3 linked regions of the Homo sapiens genome follow. The protein of the gene in region 1 purifies or fractionates together with the protein of each later gene. This does not show direct contact. Each region holds a gene or a part of one and is shown in the gene's direction. Other genes may lie near its edges. The genes, in order: EPHX2, ACAA2 and NPEPPS.

Evidence for each region.
Region 2: the proteins of EPHX2 (region 1) and ACAA2 fractionate together in Homo sapiens (co-fractionation; one large-scale study listed by BioGRID). This does not show direct contact.
Region 3: the proteins of EPHX2 (region 1) and NPEPPS fractionate together in Homo sapiens (co-fractionation; one large-scale study listed by BioGRID). This does not show direct contact.

Annotation. Positions count from the first base shown.
Region 1 is NC_000008.11:27,501,109-27,504,764, forward strand, and holds part of EPHX2 (bifunctional epoxide hydrolase 2), read left to right. Parts: intron 1-2,495; coding exon 2,496-2,655; intron 2,656-3,656. UniProt on the Homo sapiens protein: Bifunctional enzyme. The C-terminal domain has epoxide hydrolase activity and acts on epoxides (alkene oxides, oxiranes) and arene oxides. Plays a role in xenobiotic metabolism by degrading potentially toxic epoxides.
Region 2 is NC_000018.10:49,796,395-49,800,050, reverse strand, and holds part of ACAA2 (3-ketoacyl-CoA thiolase, mitochondrial), read left to right. Parts: intron 1-2,456; coding exon 2,457-2,585; intron 2,586-3,656. UniProt on the Homo sapiens protein: In the production of energy from fats, this is one of the enzymes that catalyzes the last step of the mitochondrial beta-oxidation pathway, an aerobic process breaking down fatty acids into acetyl-CoA.
Region 3 is NC_000017.11:47,618,023-47,621,012, forward strand, and holds part of NPEPPS (puromycin-sensitive aminopeptidase), read left to right. Parts: intron 1-327; coding exon 328-435; intron 436-986; coding exon 987-1,142; intron 1,143-1,255; coding exon of another isoform or gene 1,256-1,350; intron 1,351-1,714; coding exon 1,715-1,762; intron 1,763-2,990. UniProt on the Homo sapiens protein: Aminopeptidase with broad substrate specificity for several peptides. Involved in proteolytic events essential for cell growth and viability. May act as regulator of neuropeptide activity.

The DNA of each region.
Region 1 (3,656 bases):
CCTTTTCTGTGAAGACAAATGTTGTTTTAATGGTATTAATGGGAGTATTGCAGTCACCTTAAAACATACTTGCTAATATATTGTGGCAAATGGTGAACGAAAACTGTGATGAAACTATTGGGAAGAACATTATTGAATTATTGACTTTTTATTTAATCCATAAAAAAACCTCAGTAATATTGTTGGAAGGTAAGAAAGAGGGAAATGCTATATATTTTCTTCTTCTTCTTCTTCTTCTTCTTCTTCTTCTTCTTCTTCTTCTTCTTCTTCTTCTTCTTCTTCTTCTTTCTTCTTTCTTCTTTCTTCTTTTTCTGAGACAGGTTCTCACTCTATTGCCTAGGCTGGAGTGCAGTGGCATGATCATGGCTCACTGCAGCCTTTACCTCCTGGGCTCAGATGATCCTCCCACCTCAGCCTCCCAAGTAGCTGGGATTACAGGCACACATCACCATGCCCAGCTGTTTTTTGTATTATTATTATTATTGCTAGAAATGGGGTTTCACCGTGTTACCCAGACTGGTCTAGAACTCCTGGGTTCAAATGATACACCCACCTTGGTGTTCCAAAGTGCTAGGATTACAGGTATGAGCCACCATGCCCAGCCTATATTTTCAATGAACATACAGAATTTAGAGTGAATTTCTAGTAATTGCTATGAAAATCCTGCGTTTCATTCAGACTCCTTTGGTGGCTTCTGATAGTCTGTGTGTAACTTCTAGGAAACTGGCATGGCTAGAGGGAAGAAGCCTGGAAAACTAAATTATATCATGCTAAGGCTATTTACACTTGACTTGTCTTAAAAAAAAAAGTCTTATCTTGGGAGTGAATGTCATCTTTTAACTTTTCATGTGTATATACTATACAGACAGAAAAGTACACATAGCATACAGCTTGATGACTTTTCACACACTAAGTATACTGCTGTCACCAGCACCCAGATCAAGAAATAAAACATTCTCAGCGCTGTAGGCAACACATAACCCCGCTCTGGATACCATCCCTCCAAGAGTATTACCATTCTAACTTCTATCCCAATAGATCACTTTTACCTGTTTTGGACTTTATGTAAATGGAATTGTGCACATCAGCTCTTTTGCGTCTGGCATCTTTTGCTCAACATTGTATGAGTGAGACTCATCGTTGTTGCATGCTGCCATAGATCATTTTATTCTCATTGCTGCATGACATTCCATCACATTCATATACCCCAATCTATCCATTCTTCTATTGATGGGGTTCTGGGTAGTTTTCAGTTTGGGACTATTACAAATAGTGCTGCTATGATGATGTGTATATATAACAATCCATTCTGCTATTAGTGAGTGTATTAGTTTGCTAGGGCTGTGTCTTACATAGCACCTTCAGCTGCTACCTACAGCAAATATGCCATAGACTGTGTGACTGAAACAACAGACATTTATAGCTCACAGTTCTGGAGGCTGGGAAGTCCAAGATGAAGGCACTGGCAGGTTCAGTGTCTGGTGAGGGCTCTCTTCTTGGTTTGCAGATGGCCACCTTCTTGCTGTATCCTCACATGGTAGAAAGCAGAGAGACAGGGGAAAAAAAGCAAGTTCTTGGCTGTCTTCTCCCTGTGTCCTCACATGGTCATCCCTGTGTGTGTCTATGTCCTCATCTCCTCTTCTTATTTGGGCACCAGTCATATTGGATTAAGATTCGTCATAATGACTTCATTTTACCTTAAGTACCTCTTTAAAGGCCTGATTTCCAAATATAGTCACATCATGAGACTCTGGGGGCTAGGACTTCAACACAGGAATTTTGGGGAGGACACAGTTTAGCCCATAACAGTGGACATTTGGGTAGTTCCAGTTTGGGGCTTGCTATGGTCCAAGTGTTTGTGCCCCCCGCCCAAAATCCCTATGTTGAAATCCTAACCCCCAAGGTGATGTTATTAAGAGGTGGGGCCTTCAGGAAGTAATTGGGTCATGAGGGTGGAACCCTCAGGAGTGAGATCAGTGCACTTATAAAAGAGATCCCAGAGAGCTATCGAGCCCCTTCTACCATGTGAAGACAGCAAGAAGGTGCCATCTGTGAAATAGAAGGCAAGCCCTAACCAGACACCAAATCTGCTGGAGCCTTGATCTTGGACTTCCCAGCCTTCAGCACTGTAAGAAATAAATTTCTGCTGTTTATGAGCCACCCAGCCTCTGGTCTTTTGTTATAGCAGCTGAGATGGGCTAAGACAGGGCTCTTAGGAATAGCACTGCTATGACTGTGGGTGAATATAATACAATCTATCCATTCTGCTGTTAGTGGGCATTTGGGTCGTTTCTGGTTTGGGACTCCTAGGAAGAGTATAGCTATGAACATTTTTGGCCATGTCTCTTGGAGAACATATGTTGGCATTTCCAGTGGGTATGTGTCCAGGAGTGGAATTGCTTGGTCACAGGGAATGTATATGTTTAGATTTAGTAGACCCTGCCAGAGCTTTTCTGAGTGGCCATACAAATTGTCCCCTCACTTCACTTTGACAGTGGATACCACTCATGGAAGAAAACTGCAGGAAGTGCTCCGAGACCGCTAAAGTCTGCCTCCCCAAGAATTTCTCCATAAAAGAAATCTTTGACAAGGCGATTTCAGCCAGAAAGATCAACCGCCCCATGCTCCAGGCAGCTCTCATGCTCAGGAAGAAAGGTAAGGATCTGATACTGGCCAATCTCAGGCCGAACCACCCAGAACCCTCGGGAGCATTAGGTCAGAATCCATTGAAGTGAGCTTTGAGATCACAGATCTTCTGAGCCACGATGGAAAGCCTCTTTAAACATGGCCCCAAAGCAAGTTTTATCCAATGGCAAAAGCAGCACTATTAGAAAAGCTGGAAAAATGGCAGGATTTTACTTAATAAAGCAATTGATGCCCATGACTGCCTTGTGAACATCATTCTCCCCTTCAATGGCACTTTAGTAATGACCCAAATGACATGATCTTTTGTCACAGTGATTAAGAAACAAGGCCTTTTTAGCAACTGTGATTTTCTTAGCCTCTGGGTATCAGAGTGTCCAAGCTATGAGTTGGCTGACATGGGCTCAGATTATGTCACATAGTCTAAGACATGAGGTCAAGTTCATCCATAGGCGTTGACTTGGTGTGAACACCTGACTCTTGTCATAGGCATATTGAAACTATTCCACCCTCTTATCAGTAGACTTACCTGGTTGTGGCTGAGCCATCCCATGTCTGCAACTCTTCCCTCCTATTGCGTGGGAAGAGTCTCACCATCAACTCTTCAGTGTCTTCTTTCCAGCATTGCCTAGTTCTCACCCTCGCTGGTTAGGCAGATAAAGCCAGGGGATAATCCTATTTCTATGTACACTTCTCTAGTTTTGAAATAGAAACCTAGTCCCTGATTGCCAAGGCAGGTATTCTGGAATTTAGTCAAGCAGTGTTTTCAGTAGCATGGACTAGAAAGAATGCTGGACCTTCACCATGTGGCTCTGGGCAGCTCGTAACTTGTCTGAGCTTGTTTGCTGATCTGTGAATCTGGGAGGGTAGGATTGGCCCTGTCCACCCCTGAGGTGGTAGAGATCAAAATGAGCTGATGAATGTATAAGTGCTGCTCCACTGTTGTCAAGGAGGAAGGAGGGTAGTTTCTCCATCTAGGCTTCTGAGGGCCTTGAATGAACCCAGCTCATGCT
Region 2 (3,656 bases), on another chromosome or scaffold:
AGACGCTCCTCACTTCCCAGACAGGGTGGCTGCCAGGCGGAGGGGCTCCTCACTTCTCAGATGGGGTGGCTGCCGGGCGGAGGGGCTCCTCACTTAGACGGGGCGGTTGCCGGGCAGAGGGTCTCCTCACTTCTCAGATGGGGCAGCCGGGCAGAGACGCTCCTCACCTCCCAGATGGGGTCGCGGCCGGGCAGAGGCGCTCCCCACATCCCAGATGATGGGCGGCCGGGCAGAGACGCTCCTCACCTCCTAGACGGGATGGCGGCTGGGAAGAGGCGCCCCTCACTTCCTAGATGGGATGGCGGCCAGGCAGAGACGCTCCTCACTTTCCAGACTGGGCAGCCAGGCAGAGGGGCTCCCCACATCCCAGACGATGGGTGGCCAGGCAGAGACGCTCCTCACTTCCCAGACGGGGTGGCAGCCGGGCAGAGGCTGCAATCTCGGCACTTTGGGAGGCCAAGGCAGGCGGCTGGGAGGTGGAGGTTGTAGCGAGCAGAGATCACGCCACTGCACTCCAGCCTGGGCACTATTGAGCACTGAGTGAACAAGACTCCGTCCGCAATCCCAGCACCCCGGGAGGCCGAGGCTGGCGGATCACTCGCGGTTAGGAGCTGGAGACCAGCCAGGCCAACACAGCGAAACCCCGTCTCCACCAAAAAAATACGAAAACCAGTCAGGCGTGGCGGCGCGTGCCTGCAATCGCAGGCACTCAGCAGGCTGAGGCAGGAGAATCAGGCAGGGAGGTTGCAGTGAGCCGAGATGGCAGCAGTACAGTCCAGCTTCAGCTAGGCATCAGAGGGAGACCGTGGGGAGAGGGGGAGGAGGAGGGGGAGAGGGAGAGCTGTGGATTTTTTATAGATTCCCTTTGTCAGATTGAGAAAGTTGCCATCTGTTCCTAGTTTGTTCAGTGTTTTTGTCATGAAAGGGTGTTGTATTTTGTCAAATACTTTTTCTGTTGACTTTTTGTGTTGAAATCCACATTGGATTTCATTGTTTCCTAAGAAATAAGTAAAACTCATTTATTCCAAGTGATATTTAATAATATTAAACTCAATTAGAAAAGCAGCTTTGTGGTATTTGTCAAATGTTATTCGAAGCATATTCTGTTCTCTCTTAACCATAAAGGCCTAACCCCAAATATTTATCTGTTAATAATTTACACGAGATGATCGTGTAAATTTTTTTTATTCTGTTGATATGTGATATTTGACAAACCTTGGCAAAAGAATATCCATTGGCCAAGAATTTTTTTAATGACATTAATTTGTAAAATAAGATAATTTCATCTCAGTCAACAGATGAAACATTTAGTTAGTAGATTAATTGATGTTATACTGAGTTCCTCCCAGTTCCATCTGCATTCAAAACCCTTAACTTATAAATGTGCCGAATTTGTCAAGTTTTGAAAAACTTGAAACCTACACAAAAGTTAAAAGAATAGTACAATGAACATCCTAAAACCCCGTACCTTGATAGACCAATGTTTTACATTTTGTCAAACTTGCTTTTGCTCTTGCTAACAGCCTCCAAAACAGGCTGTTAATGTTTTTGGTTGTTGTTGGTTTTTTTTTTTTAAGTCATTCTTTTTATTCAAAGTGTGGTTCTTGGACTAGCAACATCAGCTTCACCAGGGAAATGGTTAGAAATGCAGAATCTCCGGCAGACCTAGACCTGTTGATTCAGAACTTACATTTTATTATAACAAGACGCCCCCATATGCATTTTAAAGTTTTGGGAGTGGTGGTCTACTCCTACCTCTTACTCTCCTGACCAATCATTCATCTGTCTTCTCCCTAAGTATGCAGTCCTCAGCCTGTTTTACATTAGAATTACTTGGGATGCTTTTTAAAAGTGACTACTGATGCCCAGGCCCCACCTCCAGCCTTTCTGGTTTAATTGATTTGCTTAGGAACTTAAGCATGAGTATGTTAATAAAGCTTCCTAGGTTATTCCAGCCTGCAACCAAGGTTGAGAACCACAGCCTCCGATACTTCCTCTGTTAAGGAGCATACTACTTTAGGATAGCGTATTCCATTTTTAAATAACTCTAATTGTTATAAATTTCTGTCTTATATTAAGGACTTAATGGGATTTCTCTAAGTAGCAATTATCTTTAATATATTTGAAAACCAATTGACTGTGGTTACACAACATTATGAATGTATTTAAATAATACCATTGAACTATACACTTAAAAATGGTTACAATGATACATTTTGTTATGTGTATTTTGCCCCAATAAAAAAATAGAAAAAAACCCAATTGACTGTAGTTTTTATTCAAATTGTAAACACATATTAGATATAATATGCTGTACTTAGATGCATTTTGTCCTACCTTAGAGCCATATAGTTTATCATTTTTGATAGATTGCCAACATTTCCATGTATTTCGTGCTTGTTCTTAATTAGTAGATTTATAGAGAAAATTATTTTTCTTTTCCTTCTCTCTTCTAGAGTTCTTCAGATGCTATATATTTGGCAAGGCATGTTGGTTTGCGTGTGGGAATCCCAAAGGAGACCCCAGCTCTCACGATTAATAGGCTCTGTGGTTCTGGTTTTCAGTCCATTGTGAATGGATGTCAGGTATGGACAACATTTTTTTAAATTCTCTGAAAATATGTTAATAGTTACTAGAAGAAATGTCCCACTGCAATATAACACTTTAGCTTTAGGGAGGATTGCTTGAGCCCTGGAGGTCAAGTAAACCATGATCATACCACTGCACTCCAGCCATGGGCAACAGAGTGAGACCTTGGCTCCAAAAAAAAGAAAAAAAAAAAAAAGCTAATAATGAACCTGAAAGTGGAATAAGCCTGTCATAAAAGGACAAATACTGTATGTTTCTACTTCTTTGAGATACCTAGCGTAGTCAAATTCATAGAGACAGAAAGTAGAATGGTGTTCCCAGGGACTGGTGAGGGAAAGTTAGTGTTTAATGGATATGGAGTTTCAGTTTTGCAAGATGAAAAGCGTTCTGGAGATGGGTGATGGTAATGGTTGCATCACACTATGAATACACTTAAACTACTGAGCTGTATACTTAAAAATGGTTAAAATGGTAAGTATTATATATATATATATACTTCAATATTTTTAAAAGCTAGTATGTTCATCATTCTTTCGAGTGCTTCCTACATGCTAGGCACCCTGCTAGATTTACATTCAATATCTCATTTAATCTTACAACCATCCTATGAAGCAAGAACTATTATTATTATTCCCATTTTACAGGCAAGGAAACTGATTAAAGCCATTAAGGTTACTCAGTCATAGAATTTGAACCCAGGTCTGTGAGTGTTACCTGTGAGGCACTGAATAAAGACCGTGAGGCAAGCAGGAAATCTCAAGAATTTAGGAGAGGATAAGGAAATGTATTTTATTTCAAAGGAAGTGAATGATGCTGTTAGTAGAAGTACAAACTAGTTTGACCTTTTTAAAGGACAGTTGGTTAAATACATTTGTTTCTTTGAGCACAGAGAAGAAAGTGAAATCCAATTTCATTTGTAAAAGTCTTCATTTTATTACAAACAAAATAAGAGCCAGAGGCGTATTTTAATAAAACAATTTTCACATTAATTTGTTTCTATAACGATATATCTTAAATAGTGACCTCGGTTTTCCTAGTAATAATTTTAAGAACCATCAGGTTCATAG
Region 3 (2,990 bases), on another chromosome or scaffold:
ACCACCACGCCCGGCTAATTTTTTTTTTTTGTATTTTTAGTAGAAACAGGGTTTCACCATGTTGGCCAGGCTGATCTCGAACTCTTGACCTCAGGTGATCCACCCGCCTCGGCCTCCCAAAGTGCTGGGATTACAGGTGTGAACCACCGCACCTGGCCCAAAGCATCTTGAAAAGTATTCTCTTTCTTTAATATAATGCCCTGCCATTCTTACCTAGTGAGAATATAGAACCTAAGTTTTACCTTACTGGGGAAGAAGCTCATATAATCATATGCAGAACATCCAAGGGAGAGTTAACTATTCCTATCTTTATCTTTTTTCCTGTAGCTTCATAAACAAGCAGATATGCAAGAAGAGAAAAACCGAATCGAAAGAGTCCTTGGCGCTACTCTTTTGCCTGACCTGATTCAAAAAGTCCTCACGTTTGCACTTTCAGTAAGTTACGGTGAAAACTGCATTTAGAAGTGAATCGTTACCCATCTCTGAGAAGTGTCTCTGATTCAGCTCTGATCCTCTTGAGCTGCCTTAACCCTAACTAAAGCTTCCTTTTCCAGAGTAACTGGCTTGAGTTTTTGTTACTGACTTCTGTTTTTCTCCCACTAGTGGCGAGAATCAGAATAGTTGGGAGAGTAAACAAATTGTCTCTCCAGAATGGAAACTATGAGGACAGGGACTCTTGAAAACTGGGAAACTGGCTTATGCCTTTGCTTACTTTGTGTCTCTTCCTTTCTTAAACCTATAGGCTCCTAAGCAAGTATCTGTTGAGCAGTCTGTCTGTCTGAACCTGTCTCAGTACCTCATTCTCATTTTGGTTATCTTTAGCTTAAACATTATCTTCTTTGCTGAGAACTTCTGGTTCCAGTTATTCCTAAAACAAGGAATAAGTGTCTTCAGTGTGATTACTTCAGTGTCACAGTATGGTGCACTTTCTGGTACCAGAATATGTTTTTGATACACTAGACTTTTAGCTCTCTTTCTTTTTTTAGGAAGAGGTACGTCCACAGGACACTGTATCGGTAATTGGTGGAGTAGCTGGAGGCAGCAAGCATGGTAGGAAAGCTGCTTGGAAATTCATAAAGGACAACTGGGAAGAACTTTATAACCGATACCAGGGAGGATTCTTAATATCCAGACTAATAAAGGTATGTGAAAAACTTTGAGTAGCTTGCTAATCATGGATATTATTTAGTGACATCCATGATTCACTACACCCATACATTGTGGTCTTTGCTCTTTAAATGTTTCCTGTGGCCAGGTGCAGTGGCTCACGCCTGTAATACCAGCACTTTGGGACGCCGAGGTGGGCAGATCACCTGAGGTCGGGAGTTCGAGACTATCCTGGCCAACATGGTGAAATCCTGTCCCTACTAAAAATACAAAAATTAGCTGAGCGTGGTGGTGTGTGCCTGTAATCCCAGCTACTTGGGAGGCTGAGGCAGGAGAATCGCTTGAACCTGGGAGGCAGAGGTTGTGGTGAGCCGAGATGAGGTCATTGCACTCCAGCCTGGGCAACAAGTGTGAAACTCCGTCTCAAAAAAAAAAAAGTTTCCTTAAATAGTTACTGGCTTTATTTAAGGACTTCTCCATCTCCCATCACACATCCTTTATAACAGACTGAAGTTGGCAGAGAACAGAATGATTTATTTTTAGGGTAAATGGAAGTTTGTTCTCAGCCTCTTGGTTTCACTTACTGTTTAAAACCATTGTTTTGCAGCTATCAGTTGAGGGATTTGCAGTTGATAAAATGGCTGGAGAGGTTAAGGTAAGGAAAATACTGTTTACTCTTCACTTTTCAGTCTAGTAAGTAAAAACAATAACCTGGTTGTAATTATAGTGTTGGGATAATGTACTGTAGCATCTCTGTGTTTTTGTTTAGAGAAAGACATCATGCAGGGCTGTATAGGCCATATTAAGAATTTCCTAAAAATGGCCAGGCATGGTAGCTCACATCTGTAATCTCAGCACTTTGGGAGGCCGAGGTGGGTGGATCACCTGAGGTCAGGACTTCAAGACCAGCCCGGGCAACATGGTGAAACCCCAAATTAGCTGGACATGGTGGTGCACGCCTCTAATCCCAGCTACTCGGGAGGCTGAGGCAGGAGAATTGCTTGAGCCCGGGAGGTGGAGGTTGCAGTGAGCTGAGATCGTGCCATTGCACTCCAGCCTGGGTGACAGAGCGAGACTCCTGTCTCAAAAAAAAAAAAAAAAAAAAAAGTCCTAAAAATGGAAAGCCTTCGAATGGTTTATAAACAAGGCAGTGCCTTGATCTGATTTGTGTTATAAAAATTTCAGTCTGGCTGCAATGTGGATAATAGTTTGGAATGGGGAAGAGAAGATGTTGGGAAGCTAACTCTCCTAGCAAGAATGATAGAATAGCTTACAGTAGGGTAGTGGCAGTAGTGGAGGAGATGGAATAATGGAGATTCAGGGGCTTGAATTTGTTAACCATTTAGTTCAACAATATTTATTGATTGGCTTCTCTGTTGTGAGCATATCTGGGAGAGGAAGAAAAACAAGCCAGGATAATCCCCAGGTTTCTGGTGTATAAATGTTGGTACTACTCTGCGATGGAATGGAAAAAGACTTGAGGCCCTGAGAACTGAACCATGATTAGGAGCCTTGGAACAGTAGCAATTGTCATCTGTGTAAATAAGGTTATTGATTTCTAAAAGGTCTATGTTTAATCAGATGGATTAGTCATTCTGTCTTTCACACCTGTGGTGACTAATTCAAAGGAAAAGCCCTATCATTTTGCCAGCTGGTGTTTAAGAGTTGCTTTGTTTTCTGTGAAACCAGGTGTACTGCATTAGAAAAGTTTATTCAACTTTTAATCATTAAGCATTGTGATAAATTGTAAACTTAGAAATTGTTTGGTTTACTGTATTAAAAATGTTGGATTCCTGTAATTCCAGCATTTTGGGAGGCTGAGGTGGGAGGATTGCTTGAGTTCAAGAGTTCAAGACCAGTCTGGGCAACATGGTAGGACCCCA